2 separate regions of the Homo sapiens genome follow, and region 2 is linked to region 1. The links come from fine-mapping of genetic effects on gene expression. A gene starts in region 1. The other region holds a variant in brackets. All regions are shown on one strand. Distances are from middle to middle.

Evidence for each region. PIP is the estimated chance that this variant, and not a neighbour inherited with it, causes the effect.
Region 2: its variant is fine-mapped to the expression of HDC in whole blood (TOPMed, PIP above 0.99).

Annotation. Positions count from the first base shown.
Region 1 is chr15:50,260,816-50,271,211 of GRCh38, forward strand. HDC (histidine decarboxylase) reads right to left here and starts at 4,911. Exons shown (of 12, transcript NM_002112.4): 1 at 4,778-4,911; 2 at 2,420-2,592. The coding sequence starts at 4,808.
Region 2 is chr15:50,202,534-50,212,929 of GRCh38, forward strand. SLC27A2 (solute carrier family 27 member 2) reads left to right here. Exons shown (of 10, transcript NM_003645.4): 3 at 1-112; 4 at 2,706-2,830. Among named protein-coding and RNA genes, the nearest start is that of SLC27A2, 26 kb to the left of the region's middle. RefSeq lists an enhancer at 8,224-8,803. The variant C/T (reference allele first, on the strand shown) is at 5,027.

The DNA of each region.
Region 1 (10,396 bases):
TCCTGACTTTTCCCGTGGGGATGCTCTCTCTCTCTCATGAAAAGTAAATGAGGATTGTCTAACCAGGGTTGGAATTAAAGGGGAAAGAGAGTTTTTCTTCTCTTATTTTCTAGGTGGTGGCAGGAAGAGAAAAACTAATTCAGTTTTCAATGAGGCACTGAGCAAAATGAGTAAGCAAAGGGCCAACTGCTTTCAGGCCAGCTCTCAGAGGCTGGTGTGGCCTGAGAGATGAGTTGAGAGATTTGACCATCATTATCACTGTCCTTAGTGACAGTATTTTGGAAACCCCAGAGAAGGGCTTCTACCTCCTAGCTCTATCAAGAGACAATAGTCTGTTCTTGTAAGATAAATAAGATAAAATAGCCAGAAGAGCCCTTATCAAAAACAAACAGACCTCTTTCCAGAAATGAGCCTCACCGACCATACCCACAGCAACTGCTGGAATTCCTCTTGATCAAATGAATCAGCTCATTTCCACCTCTTCTGACAGTTGCTTTCAGTCTCACTCCCAGATTACAGTTAGCCCCTCAGCAGATTACATTTTACAGAATAAAATCCAGGAGATAATCTTATCAGGATCTAGCCTCCGTAAAGCCTTACTGATATTGACATTTTCAAAAAATGCTTGTGAAATAGGCTGAATGGTCAAAGAGATGAGTGGCTTTGTATGAAATTGCCCTCATGGCCAGGCGTAGTGGCTTAGGCCTCTCATCCCAACACTTTGGAAGGCCGAGGCAGGAGGATCACTTGAGCCCAGGAGTTGGAGACCAGCTTGGGCAACATAGCAAGACCTTGTCTCTATTGCTTCAAAAAAAAAAAAAAAAAAAAGTCAAAATTGCCATCACTTTCTGAGTTTGAATATTTTCCCACCCCTGCCTCTAGGCATATTTTTGTCACTTTTTTTTTTTTTTGAGATGGAGTTTCGCTCTTGTTGCCCAGGCTGGAGTGCAACGGCGCTATCTCAGCTCACCGCAACCTCCGCCTCCCGGGTTCAAGCGATTCTCCTACCTCAGCCTCCCAAGTAGCTGGGATTACAGGCATGTGCCACCATGCCCAGCTAATTTTGTATTTTTAGTAGAGACGGGGTTTCTCCATGTTGGTCAGGCTGGTCTTGAACTCCCGACCTCAGGTGATCCACCTGCCTTGGCCTCCCAAAGTGCTGGGATTACAGGTGTGAGCCCCCGCGCCTGGCCTTTTTGTCACATTGAAGTCAAAAGTTCTTTGGGAATGATGAAGGCAAACCTCAAGCTGGCCTCAGGAAGAGCCTCTAAACATGTGTGGTTCAGAACACAAATGCCCCAAGCAGGGAGAGGGAAGACACAGCTTGTGTGGGGGTGTGGAGCCAGACAGGCAATGCTAGGGGCCCAGGCTTAGCCAGGCACATTCAGGCACCCACCAGTAGAGGTGACAGAGGGTAGGAGAAACGGCACAGCCTGTGAAGTAAGACTGGTCTAGGGTAAAATCCTGGATCTACCAGGTACTAATTCTGTGACTTTGGGCAAGACAGTTAACTTCTCTGAGCATCAGCAGTTTCCTCATCTGTAAAACAGGGCCACTGGGAAGATTAAATTAGATAGCATGTCATGTGGCCAGCACAGAGCTGGCACATGGCAGGGAGCCCCGCCACAGGAAGGGAGTCGATGCCACTTTAGCATGAGCACCATGGCAGAGCTCCTCACCGCCAGTGGTCAGGGGTGTCCACCACCCATCAAGGCAGGCTCCAGCTCAAGCCCATGCATCAGCCAGCTTCCATCAGCTTCCTGGCCCCACCAGCACTATCCCAGGCTGCACCCTCCATCATGGAAAGTATCAATGATTCAGGGAAAGTCCCTTCTTGCTCTTGAAAAGCAGCTCAATCACCAGACCTCAGAGGGGACAGGAGGGGTTGCCAGGGCCCACTCAGTTTCCTGGGCCAACGCAACCTGGTCACCAGCGTGTCCTTGCCAGGATGTGTTCCCCACTTCCTTCCTTCTCTTTGGTGTGGTCTCAGACACTGTACAGAAGAGTCTCTGGCTCCGTCGTCAGGGCCAGGCACTACCACCAGCTTCCTCTCCCCTGTCTTACTATACACAGTTGTCCTTTCCCCTCAGACAAAATGTTCACTTCTCCACCCATCCCATTAGACTTCCACACTTCTGCCAGGCTGTGCTCTGGAATGCAGGTGTTCTGGCCAGCCCTGCCCTGGCATCAGAAACCTCATGCCATGGCACAACTGGGCAAAAAAAAAGAAAAAGAAACCTAATACCAGTCAAAGTCCTGCCCTCCACATGCCTAGCAGATGGGCTGGGGTGTTGGTGGCCAAGTGGCTGAAGGATGCATTCTCATCCCAAGCTGACCCAAAGCAGGTCTTTCTCCAGGCCACCACCCACCCTTCTGTGCCCTGAAATCCAGAACTGCCCTTGTGGTCACTGTGTCTCACCCCAGGCATGATGATTCGTTCAATGTCCCCAAAGATGCTGTCCCAGCTGTCGGGGTCCTCAGGAGCACTCTCAGGCAGCTGGGCTCGCAGGTAGCCAGGCTGCACGTCTGGCGTCACACGTCTCTCCCGCACAGTGCTCAGGTACTGGCAGATGTAATCCACCATCTCTCTCCCTAGAAGTGACATAGAGAAATCAGGCTGAAATCCCCTGACTGGGCCTGACCGATTTGTGCCCATCCCTCTCAGGTCCGGGCCAAGAGACTTGGTAAAGAAGGAGATGGATTTGGCCGGGCACAGTGGCTCATGCCTGTAATCCCAGCACTTTGGGAGGCTGAGGCAGGCGGATCACGAGGTCAGGAGATCAAGACCATCCTGACTAACATGGTCAAACCCCTCTCTACTAAAAATACAAAAAATTAGCCGGGCGTGGTGGCAGGCGCATGTAATCCCAGCTACTTGGGAGGCTGAGGCAGGAGAATCGCTTGAACCTGGGAGACGGAGGTTGCAGTGAGCCGAGATCGTGCCACTGCACTCCAGCCTGGACTCAAAAAAAAGAGAGAGACAGATTCATGGGCCGAGGGTAGGATCTGATCCCCTGCACGACCTTATCTTCAGAATTTAAAAAAAGAGTGAGGGAGTGAATGAATGATGGAGGGAGTTTCTAAGTGAGCAAATGAACAAAAAGGAAAATCTCCAAAGCACAAAACTCTAGCGCCAAAGTGAAACGTTTCATTTTCTTTCCCCTTCCTTTATCCACTTCAATTTTGATTGTCTCTCCTACCTTTCTTTCCTTCTCAGAAACAGAACATCTATTAACTATTTTATAGGTTCAATAGAAACTCTATAGCTCTTTGTATCCAAAAATTGTTACACACACACCCACCAGTTATATCTGTTAGCACAGATAGAAAGATTCCATGCCCAGTTCCGATAAAGGACAAAAAAATCTATTTTTTCACCATCCCCATTGAATCAGTTATTATTCATCTTTTTTGGACTCATATGAGGACTTAATTCAAGAATCTGATTAAAACTGTAGGCTTACATATACACAGAACTTTGTGTATAATTTCTGAGGCTCACAGAATCCCTAAAGCACAACCATGGATCCAGACCAAGCCCCCTGCCCTGGCCTGGGAAATGTGGCACCAAATCTTAATGACTTTCTCTCCCTCCTGCTGCCTCCATCAACACCTCAGTGCTTAGGATATTTTTTAGATGCTAAAAAAAAATGTATCAAGTGAATGAACATATGAGTAAGGAAGGAAAAAAAAGTCAAGTTGAACACTCTGAAACTATTGCAAATTATTTATTCTTTCAGATTGCAGTCTTCAGTGCCTCTGTTGCTGTGTGTGCATGTGTGTGTGTGTACATATCTCTTTGTCTGTCTCAACATCCATTCCTTAGTACTCCCTGGGCTGCTTTTACCTAGGAGAGGGGACTCAGTTTCTCCCCTCTGCATCAGCTTATGCAAAGTTCTTAAGAACAGAACCAACCCCAGACAAAACTTATGAGACAAAGGTAGATTTCCACACCATTCTATCTTCCTTCTGCTCCCCTTCAACCCTCTCACATCCTGGTTCTTCTCCAGCAGGGCCCCACCAGAGATCTGAGAGCTCTAGACCTAACCCTCCACTGATCCAGGAACAGTGCTAAATGTATTTGTGTTCCACTCAGAAGATAAATATCCACAGGAACTTGCTCTCAGCTGACAGTGCCTTAGGAAAGCAATGGAATAAGCTAACGCACACTAATTAGTGAGTAGGAGGATATAAAACATTATAGAAATAGACATTCAAGATTCTTTTTTAAGCAACTACCTACTTTCCTGCTAAGGGAGATCCATGCCTGAGAACTGGATAACCACTTGGTTTTGCCTGATACAGAGTAGGCACCTACTAAATATTTATGAAATGAATGACTAAATGAAAGAACACTGCTGATAGATTCACACATGAAGGAATGAATGTTAAGAAAGAAAGGATTTGCAGTGATTACAGAATATTGAGAAAATTTTTTTCTATTTCAGAATATGAACAATCCCCTTTTCCCATCTAGTGGCTCAGGGATCCAAATCCTCAATTTTGTGGGAAAGTGGGGAGGAAAAGCAAGGCACGGTAGTGTGGACATATGTGAGAGTGGGTATATGAGAGGGAGAATGAAAGAGTGGTTGAGAAAAGTTTTACACTCTGATCCCACATTCCTTTCGCAGAAAAAAAAATGTTGCTGGTGCCAACTCTCAGAAGGCAATTCTAATGCTCCCATCAAATGTCACCCCAGAATCTAAGGGCCACCCACCAGCAGCCGTTCCTGCAGGAGTAGCAGCAGGGAAGAGGGCCAGGGATGCCCGTTGCTCACCTCTCTCTCTGTACTCCTCAGGCTCCATCATCTCCCTTGGGCTCTGGCTCCTTCTCACAGATGGACACGCAGGAGGTGGAAGGCGTGAAAGGCGTGGAGCAGCCCGGCTTCCCTCTTGCCAGTCCTGCGCACTCCCTGGCAGCCAGTGTGGGCCCTTTATTTAAAGGGTTCTTTCTTTGACCTTAGCTCCGCCCTTCAAAGTCCCTTCCTCCAGGTTTAATTAATTCCACCCTTTCTTTCCCCAGTCCTTGTAGAAAACAGCGACCACAACTTTGACTGGTCAAGAGAGCCAGGATAAAAGGCGCTTCTAAATTAAGCAGTGCACTTAGCAACCCAAGCCTGCAGGCAGCCTCCAGGTGGATGCCGTAAAAGAGCCCTCAGTTCTTTCTGCCCCTGGATTCAGACAATAGAGCTCCAGCCTCAGACAAGCTCCCAGCTCAGTAGACCAGAATAAGGCCAAGGGTATGCAGAAAAAGTAGCACAAATTATTAGTATTATTCCTGCCCCTGTTTCCTTATCAGCAGTAGGGAGGGAGGAACAGGCACTAATAGTGATGCCCCCTGTGCCCAGGAACAGGCAGAAGTTATCATTGACCACAATGGATTTTTCTATTACAACATACTATCTGTTGTTGCAAAGAATGAAAAAACACAGTTATAAGCCAAAAAGAATAGAAATTAAAACATCACCCCAAATTAATCACTTTTAGCACTTAAAGAAGTAGAAGGGGGGCGTGTAAAGGGACCTGCAGAAACCCCTGTAGGGAGGGGAAACACTATCCTTGGGGTTTGATTTCTGAGTAAAAAGTAATCCAACGTTTTCACGTTGCTAAATGCAATAGTCTTTCTTGTTTATTTGTTTCCAGTCGTCCTTCTGGTTCTCTTGGTGGCATTTTATTTGTTACTACTTCATCCTTGCAGCTCACAGTTTCTCTGGGCTTTCCTCCTACATCTCTGGCTGTTTGTTTCCTCCAATGCTGGCACACCTCAGGGCATTGCCCTCCTTTCATCTTTCTGCTTTGGTGGCATTGCCCATTTCTAAGGCTTTTTTTGTTTTGTTTTGTTTAGACGGAGTCTTGCTCTGTCGCCCAGGCTGGAGTGCAGTGGCACAATCTTGGCTCACTGCAACCTCTGCCTCCCGGGTTCAAGCAATTCTCCCACCTCAACCTCCTGAGTAGCTGGGCCTACAGGTATGTGCCACCATGCCCCACTAATTTTTGTGTTTTTAGCAGAGATGGGGTTTCACCATGTTGGCTGGGTTTGTCTCGAACTCCTGACCTCAAGTGATCCACCCGCCTCAGCCTCCCAAAGTGCTGGGATTACAGGTGTGAGCCACTGCGCCCGGCCCATTTCTTAGGCTTGAAATGTTACCTATGTGATATCCGTATAGGTTTAAACATACCATCAGGCCCTCCCTGTCTTTTGAGCTTCAAAATCTTATATCCAACTGCCTTTCTGACAAATCCTCTCTTATGACTCTGAGGCACCTCAAACTTAACGTATTGCAAAACTGTCTTTCCCCAAAAATATGCCCCACTTCTAGTCTTCCCCATCTCAGTTCATCATCTCTCCATTTTCCATCCACCCATCTATTCACCCCTTGACCGTCCATTCATCCAACCACTCATCCATCCAACCACCATCCATGCATCCATCTATCCTTTCATCCATCCATTCATCCACCCAAATGCTGAAGGCATAAACCTGGTGTCTTCCTTCCCCTTCACTTTCCCTGCTCCCTGCCCAATTCAATCTGTTCAGATTCAGTTCTATTTCCAAAATAAATCTAGTCTGTCAAATTCTCCCCATTTCCATGACTACCACCCTATTCCGGTCCAAGCCACCATTATCCTTCACCTAGACTAATGCAGGAGGCTTCTCATTGGCCTGTTACTGACCATGGGTTCTTGGGCTCTCAATGTAATAGAAATTGAGAAGGCCAAAAGAGTTTTCCCAGACAGGGCATTATCAGAGCTTATGCCCAGGCATAAGGGAGACAGCACGAGAGAGAGAATTCTCTGGCAGGCTCCTTGAAGAGAGTCAGGAAAGTAATTTTAGGCTAAAATAGGTAGGAAATTTTTTAATTACTACTGAAAAAACTACAGTGAGAAATCACTTCATACAGACTATGATGACTATAATAAAAAAGATAGATAACAACAAGTATTGGTGAAGACAGGGAAAAATTAGAACCCTCATACTTTACTGGTGGGAATGTAAAATGGCACAGCCATTTTGGAAAATAATCTGGAAGCTCCCCAGAAAGCTAAACCTAGAGTTCTTTATGACTCAACAATTCTACTGCTAGGTGTATATCCAAGGAAAATGAAATCATGTCCACACAAAAACGTATACATGGGTGTTCATAGCAGAATTATTATAATAGACAAAAATGGAAATAATCCAAATGTTCAGATGAATGAATGAAACGTAGTATATCAATACAACAGAATATTATTCCATGATAAAAAGGAATGAAGTACTGATACATACCAAAACATGGATGAACTTGGAAACATACTAAGTGAAAGAAACTAGTCACAAGGAACCATATATTATATTATTTCATTCATATGAAATATCGAGAATAGACAAATCTACAAAATAGATTCATGGTTAGAAGTGGGTAGGGAGCTGAAGATTGATGGCTAAGGAGAACAGGGATTTTTGGCAGGGTGGTAAGATGAAAATGTTCAAAATTGTTGGGTTTTGGTTTTGTTTTATTTTGCTTCGTTTTATTTTGCTTTGTTTTGTTTTGTTTTGAGATGGAGTCTCACTCTGTGGCCCAGGCTGGATTGCAGTGGTGCAATCTCGGCTCACTGAAACCTCTGCCTCCTGGGTTCAAGCAATTCTCCTGCCTCAGCCTCCTGAGTAGCTGGGATTACAGGCGTGAGCCACTGCGCCCTGCTGAAAATGTTTTAAAATTTATTATGGTGATGGTTGCACACTTCTGTGGATATACTAAAAGCTATTAAACTGTACACTTCAAACGAGGAAATTTTATAGAATGGGAATTATATCTCAATAAAACTGTTGATTTAAGAAAAAAAAAAGCCCTAAGAAAATAAGGGCATTGGTGAAAAAATGGCCTAGAGGATTTAGATTCCAGTGATATTGTCAATAAATCCTTCATTAGGAGCCAGGGTGGGAAAAATAATAATATTGACAACGATATGGGAGGTAAAAAATTTGATCTCATGGAGGTAGAGAATAAAATGATAGTTACCAGAGACTGGAAAGGGTTGGTGGGAGCTGGGGGTGAGGAATAAGTAGAGATTGGTTAATTGGTACAAACATATAATTAGATGGAATTCAATAATATTCAATAGCACATTAGGATGACTATAGTTAATAATTTATTGTATATTTCAAAATAGCTAGATTTGGAATGTTCTGAACACAAAGAAAAATGTTTGAGATGATGGATATCTTAAATATCCTGATTTGATCATTACACACATTGTATGCATGTATCAAAATATCACATATACTCCATAAACAGGTACAAATATTATGTGTCAATTTTAGAAAGTGCCAAGCACCAAGTTAGGCATTTTTATTTTTATTTTTATTTTTATTTGTTGAGACAGGGTCTCACTCGTCAACCAGGCTGAAGTATAGTGATGCGATCACAGCTCATTGCAGCCTTGACTTCCAGGCCCTGGTAATTCTGCCACCCCCACCTCCTGAGTAGCAAGGACGACAGGCATGTGCTACCACACTCAGATGATTATTGTTTTTTATTTCTTGGAGTTTTTCTGTAGAGATGGGGTTTCGCCATGTTACCCAAGTTGGTCTTGAACTCCTGGGCTCAAATGATCCACCCATCTCAGCCTCCCAAAGTGTTGGGATTACAGGTGTCAGCCACCACACCCAGCCAAGTTAGGCACTTTAAATAAAAAAGTGTTCGTTATTTTTTCTCCAAGTGTTGCTATCTCCCCATTATCTCTCTTCTATTCTGCAAATGCAGTCCTATGTTAAACTTGTGTATTATATATACTATTATATATAAATATAAATAGCATTGTATTCTTTATTTTCCATCTTCTTGTTTCTGAGTTGGTTTGAAAATATTTTTCTTTTTTAGTTGTCTCTTCAAATGTAGCTAATATAATAAACCATTTATTGATTTCTTAATATCAGATATTATATTTTTTCAGTTGTAGAATTTGTATTTCTTCTGCCTTATGGGGGCAAAAAAAGAATTTTTATTTGGTTCCTTTTTATAGTTTTCAACTCCTTGCCAAATTTTTAAATCTGGCCTTTTATTTCATTGAACATAGTGGATGATTTTTTTAAATTGCTACTGAACAATATAAAAAAAGACCTGTACAGATGAAAAGACGTACCATGCTCTCTCATGGAGTAAGATTTAACATCATGAAATAATGGTTTTCCCCTAAGTTAACCCGAAAATTTAACATAATCCCAGTGGAAAAATCAACAGGTTTTTGGGTGTTCTATTTTGGAATTCAGTGCCAACTTTTAAAGTTCTTAGGAAAAATAAACCAGAATAAAGAAGAAAATTTTGTAAGAGTAACGAGAAGGTTCTGTTCCTACCCAGAAGTATTAAAATGTATCCTGAAGCTCGAATAATTAGAACAATGAGGTAGATACTGGTGTACAAAGAGACAAACAAAAGGAGCAAATAAATTTAAACATGTACAGAAATTTAGCATATAATAAAGATAGCATCTCAGATCAGAAAGAAAAAGATGGACTATTTAATAAATTGTCCTAGAACAAGGTATAGCCATCTGGAAAGAAAAATAAGCTGTATCTATCTTTCACATCGTGCACTTAGATAAATTCCAGAAAAGTCAGATCTAAATGTGAAAAATGGAAGCATAAAATTACAGGAAACCATCACCACCATCAGGTTAACTGATGGCTTCATGGGTGTGTACACATGTCCAAACTCATCAAATAGTAGTAAATATATGCTATTTTTGTATATCAATTATGCATCAATAGAGCTGTTTTTAAAAGATGAAAATTAAATTAAGAAAATTAGAAGATTCCCTGGACAACCTCAGAGTAAAGAATACATTTATAACTATGGTTCAATGCCAGAAACCATAAATCCAATCACATTTTTTTAAAACCATAAGAAAAATCAAGATAAATGACAAACTGAGAAAATATATTTGCAACATATTTGCACAATGGGCAAATTTGTCTAATCTATGAAGAATTTCACATCAAGAAGAAAAGAGGTCAGGCACAGTGGCTCATGCCTGTAATCCCAGAGCACTTTGGGAGGCCAAGACAGGTGGATCACCTGAACTCAGGAGTTTGAGACCAGCCTGGGTAACATCGCGAAACCCCATCTCTACCAAAAATAAATAAATAAATTAGCTGGGCATGGCGGCGTGTGCCTGTAGTCCCAGCTACTTGGGAGGCTGTGGCGGGAGGATCGCTTGAGCCTGGGAGGTTGAGGTTGCAGTGAGCCGTGATAGCGCCACTGCACCCCAGCCTGGGTGACAGAATGAGACCCTGTCTCAAAAAAAACAAAAAGTGATTTCCTTTTTTTGCACATAAAGGCAAATATATACTATATTCTAATTTTTCTCCTTTTCTTTCTTTTGTTAAACACAAAAGGGATAAGTACAGTACAATA
Region 2 (10,396 bases), 58 kb before region 1:
ACTGGCCTCACTTTTGTAAGCGGATTGAAGGCAGATGATGTCATCTATATCACTCTGCCCTTTTACCACAGTGCTGCACTACTGATTGGCATTCACGGATGTATTGTGGCTGGTAAGCTTTTTCTACAAAATGTTGGAGGCGAGTGCACATTTACATTTTCCCAGAAGGAACAGTAATACAAAATTTGGCTACGTTGCTGTCTGCTAGGAACAGTTTTCAATTTTGCATTAACAATAAGGCAATTTGAATCACATATTACAAGCAAGCATCTAAAATAATCTGTTTTTCATGCCTGCCTATCTAATAATGTAATGCTATAATTGTTCAGTATATCAAGAGACAAACTCCTTTAAAATATTTTAGGGCTGGGTGCAATGGCTCACACCTGTATTCCCAGCACTTTGGGAGGCCAAGGCAGGAGGATTGCTTGAGGCCAGGAGTTCAAGACCAGCCTGGGCAACATAGCAAACCTCATCTCTAAAAAAAATATATATATATATATATATAGCCAGGCATGGTGGCTCAAGTCTGTAGTCCCAGCTACCCAGGAGGCTGAAGTAGAAGAATTGCTTGAGTCCAAGAGTTCAAGATTGCAGTGAGCTGTGATTGCACCACTGCACTCCAGCCTGGGTGACAGAGTGAGACCTTGACTGTAAAAAAAAAAATTTTAGGTTATGACACTTGAGTCTTAGATTCTATGTCATGTCATTTCCATCTTTAGAAACTTGCATGTTAATCTCCATCAGCTTTAAACTTCTGCAGTTGTGTGCACTCTTCTGTAATCTCCCATTTCCACAGCTTTTCAGCTCTACTAGAAGGAGAGAAGATGGCAACTCCATCAGAATACTTGGCTTGGCTTGGCTTGCCATCTCTTCTGTTTCCTTCTCAGACTTTACTATTCAAATTGGAGTTGCCATCCTCTCTCCTTCCAGGAGGATTCATGTCACTTGTATACATTACCGCAAAGTTCAATAGCCAACTCTTCCAGGAAGCTATATGTAACTTTCTGACTGAGCTAAATAAACAACTTTTTCTCTCATGTGGCATTTCATTTTAAATAATCATATATGTATATATAAAAATATATACACATATGTATATACACACACATATATGCGTGTGTGTATATGCATGCATGTTATGGATGGATATTTGTGTCCCCCAAAAATGTATATGTTGAAATCCTAACCCCCAATATGATGGTATTAGCAGGTAGGGCCTTTGGGAAGTAATTGGGTCATGAGAGTAGTGCCTTCATGAAAGGTAGTGCCCTTATCAGAACAGGAGACAGCCAGCTTCTTTCCTGACTCTGTTCTGTTCCATGTAAGGACACAGGGAGATGATGACCATCCCCAAACCAGGAAAAATGCCCTCACCAGACACCAGACACCTTGATCGGGACTTCCCAGCCTCCAGAACTGCAAGAGATAAATGTTGTTTAAGCCACCCATCTGTACTATTTTGTTATAGCAGCTCAAACACACACACATACACACACACACACACAATCCAAAAATTTGAAATCCAAAATGCTCCAAAATCTGTAACTTTTTAAGCACCAGGACACCACAAGTGGAAAATACTACACATAAGTACTTAACACAAACTTTGTTTTATGCACAAAGTTATTTAAAATATTGCATGAATGGGCCAGGCACAGTGGCTTATGCCTGTAATCCCAGCACTTTGGGAGGTTGAGGTGGGCGAATCACTTGAGGTCAGGAGTTTGAGACTAGCCTGGTCAACGTGGCAAAACCCCATCCCTTCTTAAAAAATACAAAAATTAGCCAGGCATGATGGTGTCCACCTGTAATCCCAGCTACTTAGAGGCTGAGGCACGAGAACCCACAAGGCAGAGGTTGCAGTGAGCCAAGATTTCACCACTGAACTCCAGCCTGGGCAATAGAGTGAGACCCGGGCCAGGTACGGTGGCTCACGCCTGTAATCTCAGCACTTTGGGAGGCCAAGGGGTACAGATCACGAGGTCAGGAGATTGAGACCATCCTGGCTAACACAGTGAAACCCCTTCTCTACTAAAAATACAAAAAATTTGCCAGGTGTGGTGGCACGCGCCTGTAATCCCAGCTACTCAGGAGGCTGAGGCAGGAGAATCACTTGAACCTGGGGGGCGGGTGTTGCAGTGAGTCGAGATGGCACCACTGCACTCCAGCCTGGGTGACAGAGCGAGACTCTGTCTCAAAAAAAGAAAAAAAAATAGAGCAAGACTCTGTCTCAAATATATATATATAAAATACATATATATGTATGTGTGTGTGTATATATATAATATATATGTATGTGTGTGTATATATATGTATGTGTGTATATATATATACTTGAGACAGAGTCTCACTCTATTTATACATATATTTAGTATATATATAATATAATATATATATATATTGCATGAAATCTCTTTCCCTCTCCCCTCCCTCCCTCTTAGGACTTCATTTGAATCTCTTACTGCAAGCTAACTTTTATTAAAATGACCTTTGTATGAGTCTTCTCCTCCATAGATTGGAAGCCCCTATCGAACAAAACCATGTCTTACTAATTTTTTGCATTTGAATATAAGGTACTCAATACTTGTTTGCAAATATAATTTATTTTTAAATTTCTACCGTTCAAAGTTGACAAATTAAACATAACTGGGAGAATTTTTTCCACCATTTCTTTCTTGACACTTTCTGTGCTTTCTCTGTAGGTGCTACTCTTGCCTTGCGGACTAAATTTTCAGCCAGCCAGTTTTGGGATGACTGCAGAAAATACAACGTCACTGTCATTCAGTATATCGGTGAACTGCTTCGGTATTTATGCAACTCACCACAGGTAACACTCCCCCCGTTTTACTATCATTTTGAAATGGGTAAGATGGAAATTCAAGTCACTTTGGGTTGTGCTAGGCTTCAACTGATTTGCATATATCAGTTTTGAGTTTAGGATACAATTATCATGATAAAGTACTTGGCACTATACCTACCATATAGAGGGGACTTAGTAGGTGGGAGTTAATATTATTATTATGATGATGATTATTTCCTGCCTTTTTACTTGTTTTCACATCTTACTCCCCACCTAGCATATCCTGCATTTCCCCCTCTGCTTACTAAAAGCCAGTGTCAAAGCCCAGTTCAAATGATACCTCATACATTAAACATATTTGGGTCACTCCAACAAAAGTCATTACTCTTCTCCCCTACGTCATTTTATTTCTACCCTCTGTGGCCCTTGTCATGTTGCAGGAGTTTGTGTTCATGTCTCCCATCCTTCCTTGGCTGTAATATCTTTGATGGCTGGAACCACATCTTGTCTCCTTGTTTTCTGTTATACCGAAGGCATACAGGAAACTTTTACTTAATGCTGTTTAACAAATAAATCTCTGTGTGACTTTGAAACCAGCCAGCCAAGTCTGTCACCAAGCTGGGAACAGATGCCCCAGGGCATCTCCAATGGCCTTGGATCTGCCCTGTTTGCAGATGTTCAGCTCTCGATGGGGTTGTTCTCAAGAGCTCCTCCTGCCCAGTCCCTCAACTCTCATCAGAGATCTGGTATCAGATAGGATTTATCAATGGTGGCACTGCTGACATTTTGGGCTTTTAATTCTTTGCCGCGCGGACTTATTCTGTGCATTGTAGAGTGTTTAGCACCCTTTGGACTTTGCCCACGAGATGCCAGTAGTAACCTCCCCACCTCCCCAGGTCATGATCATCAAAATGTCTCCAGAAACTGCCAAATGTCTCTTGGCAGGGAAATGCTAACCTAGTTGAGAACCACTGTACTAGACAATGCAGTAAACTCACCAGATTCTAATCCCTTTCACCAGATTCTAGTTCCTTTATTCAGTCAGTTTAAACTCAAAGGATCACTAAGTTGATAAATTGCTATTGATAAGCACCTGTTGTACTCACCTAACATACCAGCTGCCGTGTGACGCAGAAAGAAGTGTCAGATGCTCTTCCCCCAGGTCTCTCTCACCTCACTTTACTCAGTCTCTGCCCAGATGTTGCCTCATTAGAAGACAGGCCTCTTCTGCTAATAATCAAACATATCATCTGCCCCTCACTGTCCAGCTTGTCACTGCATTTCATGGCACCTGTCACTCCTGACATAGTAAAGGTTTATGTGATTATTGTCTGCCCCCCCTCGCCCCAATTAAATGAAAGCCGCATATGAGCAGGGGCTCTGTCCACTACCAGATCTACGGCACCAAGATCTGTAAATGACACATCATAGGCATCAACAGATTTTGTGGACTGAACCTCTAAATCCTTGCCCCTGAAAAATGTGTAGTTGAGTTGAGGGAGCTAAAATGTTTCCCCAAAATGTTTGGGCTTAGCACATATTATTCTGATTTTTTGGCATATTCAATAGATTCTCGAGGATCATCATTAGCAGTGAGTTGGGTTAGGGTATTTTCCACAGCAGTTCTGTTCATGTCATTATTGAATTTTTTTCACATTAATATTCCACGTGGCCTCCAAGATAGCATGTCTCTCTATTAAAATCCAGAAATCCATATGGGACCCTTCTGCTGGGCTTTTCTTCTCTACCTTAAAGGCACTCCTTTGTCAGTTAGAAAATCTCCTGGGGAGTGTGTGTTGTTTCTGTATGTTCTAATGGGAGCTTCCTTTGGACTGGACGAAAATAAATATGTTTGTGTGTAGCTGTCTTCAGGCCCACACATATCCACATATACACATGCACACATACACACATGCATGCACTCTCCCAGTTTTTCTCTTACTGTTGTCTCAAATACTGGAAAACAAAGACAATTTCACTGGGGTTTTACAACTTCAAAATATACTATGATTTAATGCATAATCTTGAATGACCCCTGGACTTCCTATTTGCCAGTGCTTCCCCACCCCTGAGTTCTGTTTGGAAAATATTTATAAAAAGTATAATAAAAGATCAAAGTTATCTCAAAAAAAAACCTTCAGTTAAAGATTTTTTTAAATTATAGGTCATCAGTCCAGGCACGGTGGCTCATGCCTCTAATCCCAACACTTTGGGAGGTAGAGG[C/T]GGGCAGATCATTCAAGGTCAGGAGTTCAAGACCAGCCTGGCCAACATGGAGAAACCCAGTCTCTACTAAAAATACAAAAATTAGCGGGGCTTGTTGGCACGTGCCTGTAATCCCAACTACTCAGGAGGCTGAAGCAGGAGAGTCGCTTGAAAGCAGGAGGCAGATGTTGCTGTGAGCCAAGATTGCACCACTGCACTCAAGCCTGGGCGACAGAACAAGACCCTGTCTCAAAAAAAAAAAAAAAAGGAAAGAAAGAAAGAAAACAATCATATGTCATTAGACAAGCAGGAGATCTATGCAAATTTTTTTAAATTTAATCATAGGTCATCATAGGAAGTAGAAAGTACAGATTGTATGGGATGTAGGGAAAGATTATATCAAAAAGACTTTGCAAAAAAAAAAAAAGAATTGGATAAAAACTAGAATGAATGGGGGAAGGGCCTGGATCAATGTAATCAGGAACTTCTTCACCCTTAGAGCTGCCTAGAATACGCTGTTGCTGGAGGGACTAACCCCACCAGCGACCCCCAAGCACTGGATGCCAGGGAGGCAACCTCTGCCTTAGCAGAACAGCTAAACCAAGTGACACCCATCCACAGACATATATGGCCCAGCTCATCAGGAGAATCTGGGGCCAGTGTTGGGAGGTAGAAGCCACTGTGCTTCTCTGCCCTCTTCTTAACCATATTCAGTAGCTTCTCTAGTAGAGCAGTGGGCTATGGAGAATGCTTCCAGCCCTGCTCAGGTCAGTGGTTCAGATTTGGCCCCAGGTACTTAAAGTAATGCTGAGAGCAAGTACTCTGGAGTTAGTCGGCCTGCATTCTGACTCTGGCATTGGAGCAGGATAGTTAACCTCTCTAAATCTCAGCTTCCCGTCAGCCAACAAGGAGATAATAGTACCTACCTCACATGGGGTCTATGAAGACAACCTGAGATGATATATATAAACCACATAGTAGCTGGAACTTAGTAAATTCTCAACACATGTTGCCATTATTATCATTATCACTTTCCATGCCTAACAGTGTGTAGCTCATAATAAGTACCCCATACATATTTGTTGAATGAATCAATGAAAATTCTGCCCACTTACACAAAGGAAGAAATAAGGGAAAACATTCTACTTAGTTAATCACTCTCATCTGAGGTTGAGTAGGGGATGGGATAGCAAAGCTACTGACTTAAGTGATTTTTAAAATATTATAGTGAATATTTTCTATTTTGCCGTCTTCCCGCATTGTATTTGGGCCTTTGCTTTCAAAGCGACTGTTTGTAATGAAAGGCCATTCTGATTCATTTCTTGCAGTGTATGGTTGTCAGCTCCCATTCGGTTTTTGTAGTTGCCTAAAAACAATGTCATCTAGGGAAAGTTATTTATTGGAGCATGATATTGCTAAAGCTCAGTGTTTCTTTCCTCCAGTTACAGACTGAAGCTACAGTCTGTACTGGACAAGGCTCCAGTACAGGGGTCTCAATGAGGCTTTATGACACCTGCTGGAGTGTGGGAGGAGGAAGACAGAAAGGGAACCAAAAAAGAGTTCCAGGGGCCACACATAGAACCATGATATTTGGAAGGAGAAATAATATTGGCCAGAACCCTGAAAAAGCTGAATAGATTCAACTTACCTCTAGTGTTGACTGCGTCCCCCCAGAATTAGATAACCTCTGTGGTCCCTTCTAGCCTAAAATTTCTGTCTCTGCATCAGCTTCATTCTGTTCAAAAAAGAGAATGGATGGATCTGTTGCAGCACAGAGTGGAGAGTGGCCAATATGACTGGGGCCCAAGACAGAGGGAGGCCAAAAGAAAGAGGGAAGGGGAGCAGAATCAGGAAGGTTCGCCAGGGAAGGTGGGCTTTGAAGAGTACGGAGAAGTTCTGCAGCCAGGCAAGAAAAGAAGGGCTTCTGGCTAGCAGGAAAATCACGTGAGCAGTGAGATGAAGGACCCAGCACACTGGGAACTGCAAGCAGTCTGGCAGGAGGTGAAGCTGAGGGGCTGGGTCAGGTGGCAAGGGCTTTACTCTGCTGAGACTCAAATGTGAACATGACAAGCCATGACTAAAGGGCCTTACATGGAAGAGCAATGTGGGAGATGGCATTTTTAGACAGTCCTTTTGGCTACGATGTGAGAATACACAGAAGGATGAAGGGCCTCTTCTGTAAAGCAAACAGGTGGAGCCTTGTCCAGGCAGAAGTGTAACATATTAATTATTAAGAACAGGGACTCTGGAGTTTTTCTAAGGTGATAAAGACCTTCTTCCCTTTCACCTCTTGGAAGTCACCCCAAAACAAGGCGATGAGAAAAACACACACAAGCACCATCATCTCAGAAACTAAGAGACATTGCAACCATGAACTACATAGTATAGGAAGCTAAAAGATAACAGTGACTGACATAGTAGGCTGAGAAGGGTGAAACTTAAGAGGCAAGTCCCAACAGGAAGGAAGCCAGTTGCCTTCCTGAAGGCTGAGAAATTGCAGGCTTTGAATACAGCTGAAGGTGGGATGAAGTGTCAGACTTAAAACAGGGGAGTTATTTGAAAATCTGTGTAAGAAGTAAAATACGGAGGACAGGATCATGGCGAGCGGGAGGCAGGACTAGATTGTGGCTCCAGACAGAGCAGCATGAGAGGCTCACATTGTGAATTTTAGCTCCAGCTTGACTGCAAGAACTAACCAGCAACCCCAAGAGGACCCACAGACCCTCTGAAAGAAGTGGATTGCTCCTAGAGGACCCGGGAGACACCCCAAATACTGTGATCGCCCCAACTGCAGAAGTGGGAAAGGGAGACCCTCATCTCCCGAACACATACTGGAGAAGCTGAAGGTCTGTTTGTAGAACTTCCCGACTTTACCTGGAGCCTCGTCAAGTTAGAGAGCCAAACCGAGCAAAATACAAAGGTAGAGGAAGCTGCAGAAAGGCCCTGGGAGCTCACTGGCTCCCCTAGCAGCCCATTCCCGCCTGGCACCACAGGGATCCATCAGGAGGGTGGCCAGAGGAGCAGGGGGCAAAACTCCACAGGGAGAAGGAATTCTCTAGCTAAACTTTGGGATAATTTGAACGGGGCAAGAAGACTCCTGGCCAGAACTCCAGGGAGGGTGTGAATCTGGCTTGCAGACTCCACAGGCGGAGAAGAACTAAAGCCCTTTCTTTAACAGCTGGGAGGCAGAAAGCCTTGGGCAAGTTTTCAAGCCTGACTCGCCCTCCACCTGGAAACAGACTCGGGGCCGTTGAGGGGGCACGGTGGGAGTGAGACCAGCCCTTCAGGTTGCCTGGAAGCTGGGTGAGGCCTGTGACTGCCAACTTTCCCCCACTTCCCTGACAACCTGCATGACTCAGCAGAGACAGCCATAATCCTCTTAGGTACACAACTCCAGTGACCTGGGAATCTCGCCCCCATCCCCCACAGCAGCCACAGCAAGACCTGACCAAGGAGAGTCTGAGCTCAGACAGGCCTAGCCCTGGCCCCACCTGATGGTCCTTCCCTATCCACCTTGGTATCAGAGGACAAAGAACATATAATCTTAGGAATTCTAGGGCCCTGCCCACTGCTGGTGCCTGTCCACACTATTACAGCTGATGCTTTCTGGAAAGTACCACCTCCTGGCAGGAGGCCAACAGCACAAAACAGGGAATTAAACCACCAAAGTTAAGGATCCCATGGAGTCATTGCATCCTCTGCCACTTCCACTGGAACAGGTGCTGGTATCCATGGCTGAGAGACCCATAAATCATTCACATCACAGGACTCTGTTCAGACAACCCCCAGTACCAGCCCAGAGCCAGGTAGACTTGCTGGGTGGCTAGACCCAGAAGAGAGACAACAATCACTGCAGTTCGGCTCACAGGAGCCACATCCATAGGAAAAGGGGGAGAGTATTACATCAAAGGAACACCCCATGGGACAAAATTCTGAACAACACCCTTCAGCCCTAGACCTTCCATCTGACAGAGCCTACCCAAATGAGAAGGAATCAGAAAACCAACCCTGCTAATATGAAAAGCCAAGGCTCATCAACATCCCCAAAAGATCACACTAGTTCACCAGCAACGAATCCAAACCAAGAAGAAATCCCTGATTTGCCTGAAAAATAATTCAGGAGGTTAGTTATTAAGCTAATCAGGGAGGAACCAGAGAAATATGAAGCCCAATGCAAGGAAATCCAAAAAAACGTTACAAGAGTGAAAGGAGAAATATTCAAGCAAATAGATAGCTTAAAGAAAAAAACAGGGCCAGGCATGGTGGCTGAAGCCTGTAATCCCAGCACTTTGGGAGGCTGAGGCAGGCAGATCACAAGGTCGGGAGATTGAGACCATCCTGGCTAACACAGTGAAACCCCTTCTCTACTAAAAATACAAAAAAATTAGCTGGAGTGGTGGCAGGCACCTGTAGTCCCAGCTACTCGGGAGGCTGAGGCAGGAGAATGGCATGAACCTGGGAGGCAGAGCTTGCAGTGAGCCAAGATCGCGCCACTGCACTCCAGCCTGGGAGACAGAGTGAGACTCTGTCTCAAAAAAAAAAAAAAAAAAAAGTAAATGAAAAAAACAAGCAAAAATTCAGGAAACTTTGGACACACTTTTAGAAATGCTAAATGCTCTGGAAAGTCTCAGCAATAGAATTGAACAAGTAGAAGAAAGAAATTCAGAGCTCGAAGTCAAGGTCTTTGAATTAACCCAATAAATAAAGACAAAGAAAAAATAATAAGGAAATATGAACAAAGCCTCCAAGAAGTCTAGGATTAAAAGACCAAACCTAAGAATACTTGATGTTCCTGAGGAAGAAGACAATTCTAAACACTTGAAAAACATATTTGGGTGAATAATTGAGGAAAACTTCCAAGCCTTGCTAGACCTAGACATGCAAATACATGAAGCACAAAGAACACCTGGGAAATTCATCACATAAAGATCTTTGCCTAGGCACATTGTCATCAGGTTATCCAAAGTTAAGACCAAGGAAAGAATCTTAAGAGCTGTGAGACAGAAACACCTGGTGACCTACAAAGGAAAACCTATTAGATTAACAGATTTCTCAGCAGAAACCCTACAAGCTAGAAGGGATTGGGGCCCTATCTTCAACCACCTCAAACAAAACAAGTGTAAGCCAAGAATTTTGTATCCAGCAAAACTAAGCATCATATATGAAGAAAAGATACAGTCGTTTTCAGACAAACAAATGCTGAGAGAATTCGCCATTACCACGTTACCACTACAAGACCTGCTAAAAGAAGCTCTAAATCTTGAAACAAATCCTGCAAACACATCATAACACAACCTCTTTACAGTATAAATCACACAAGACCTATAAAACAAGAATACAAGTGAAAAAGCAAACAACAAAAAAACAAAAGTTCACAGGCAACAAAGAGCA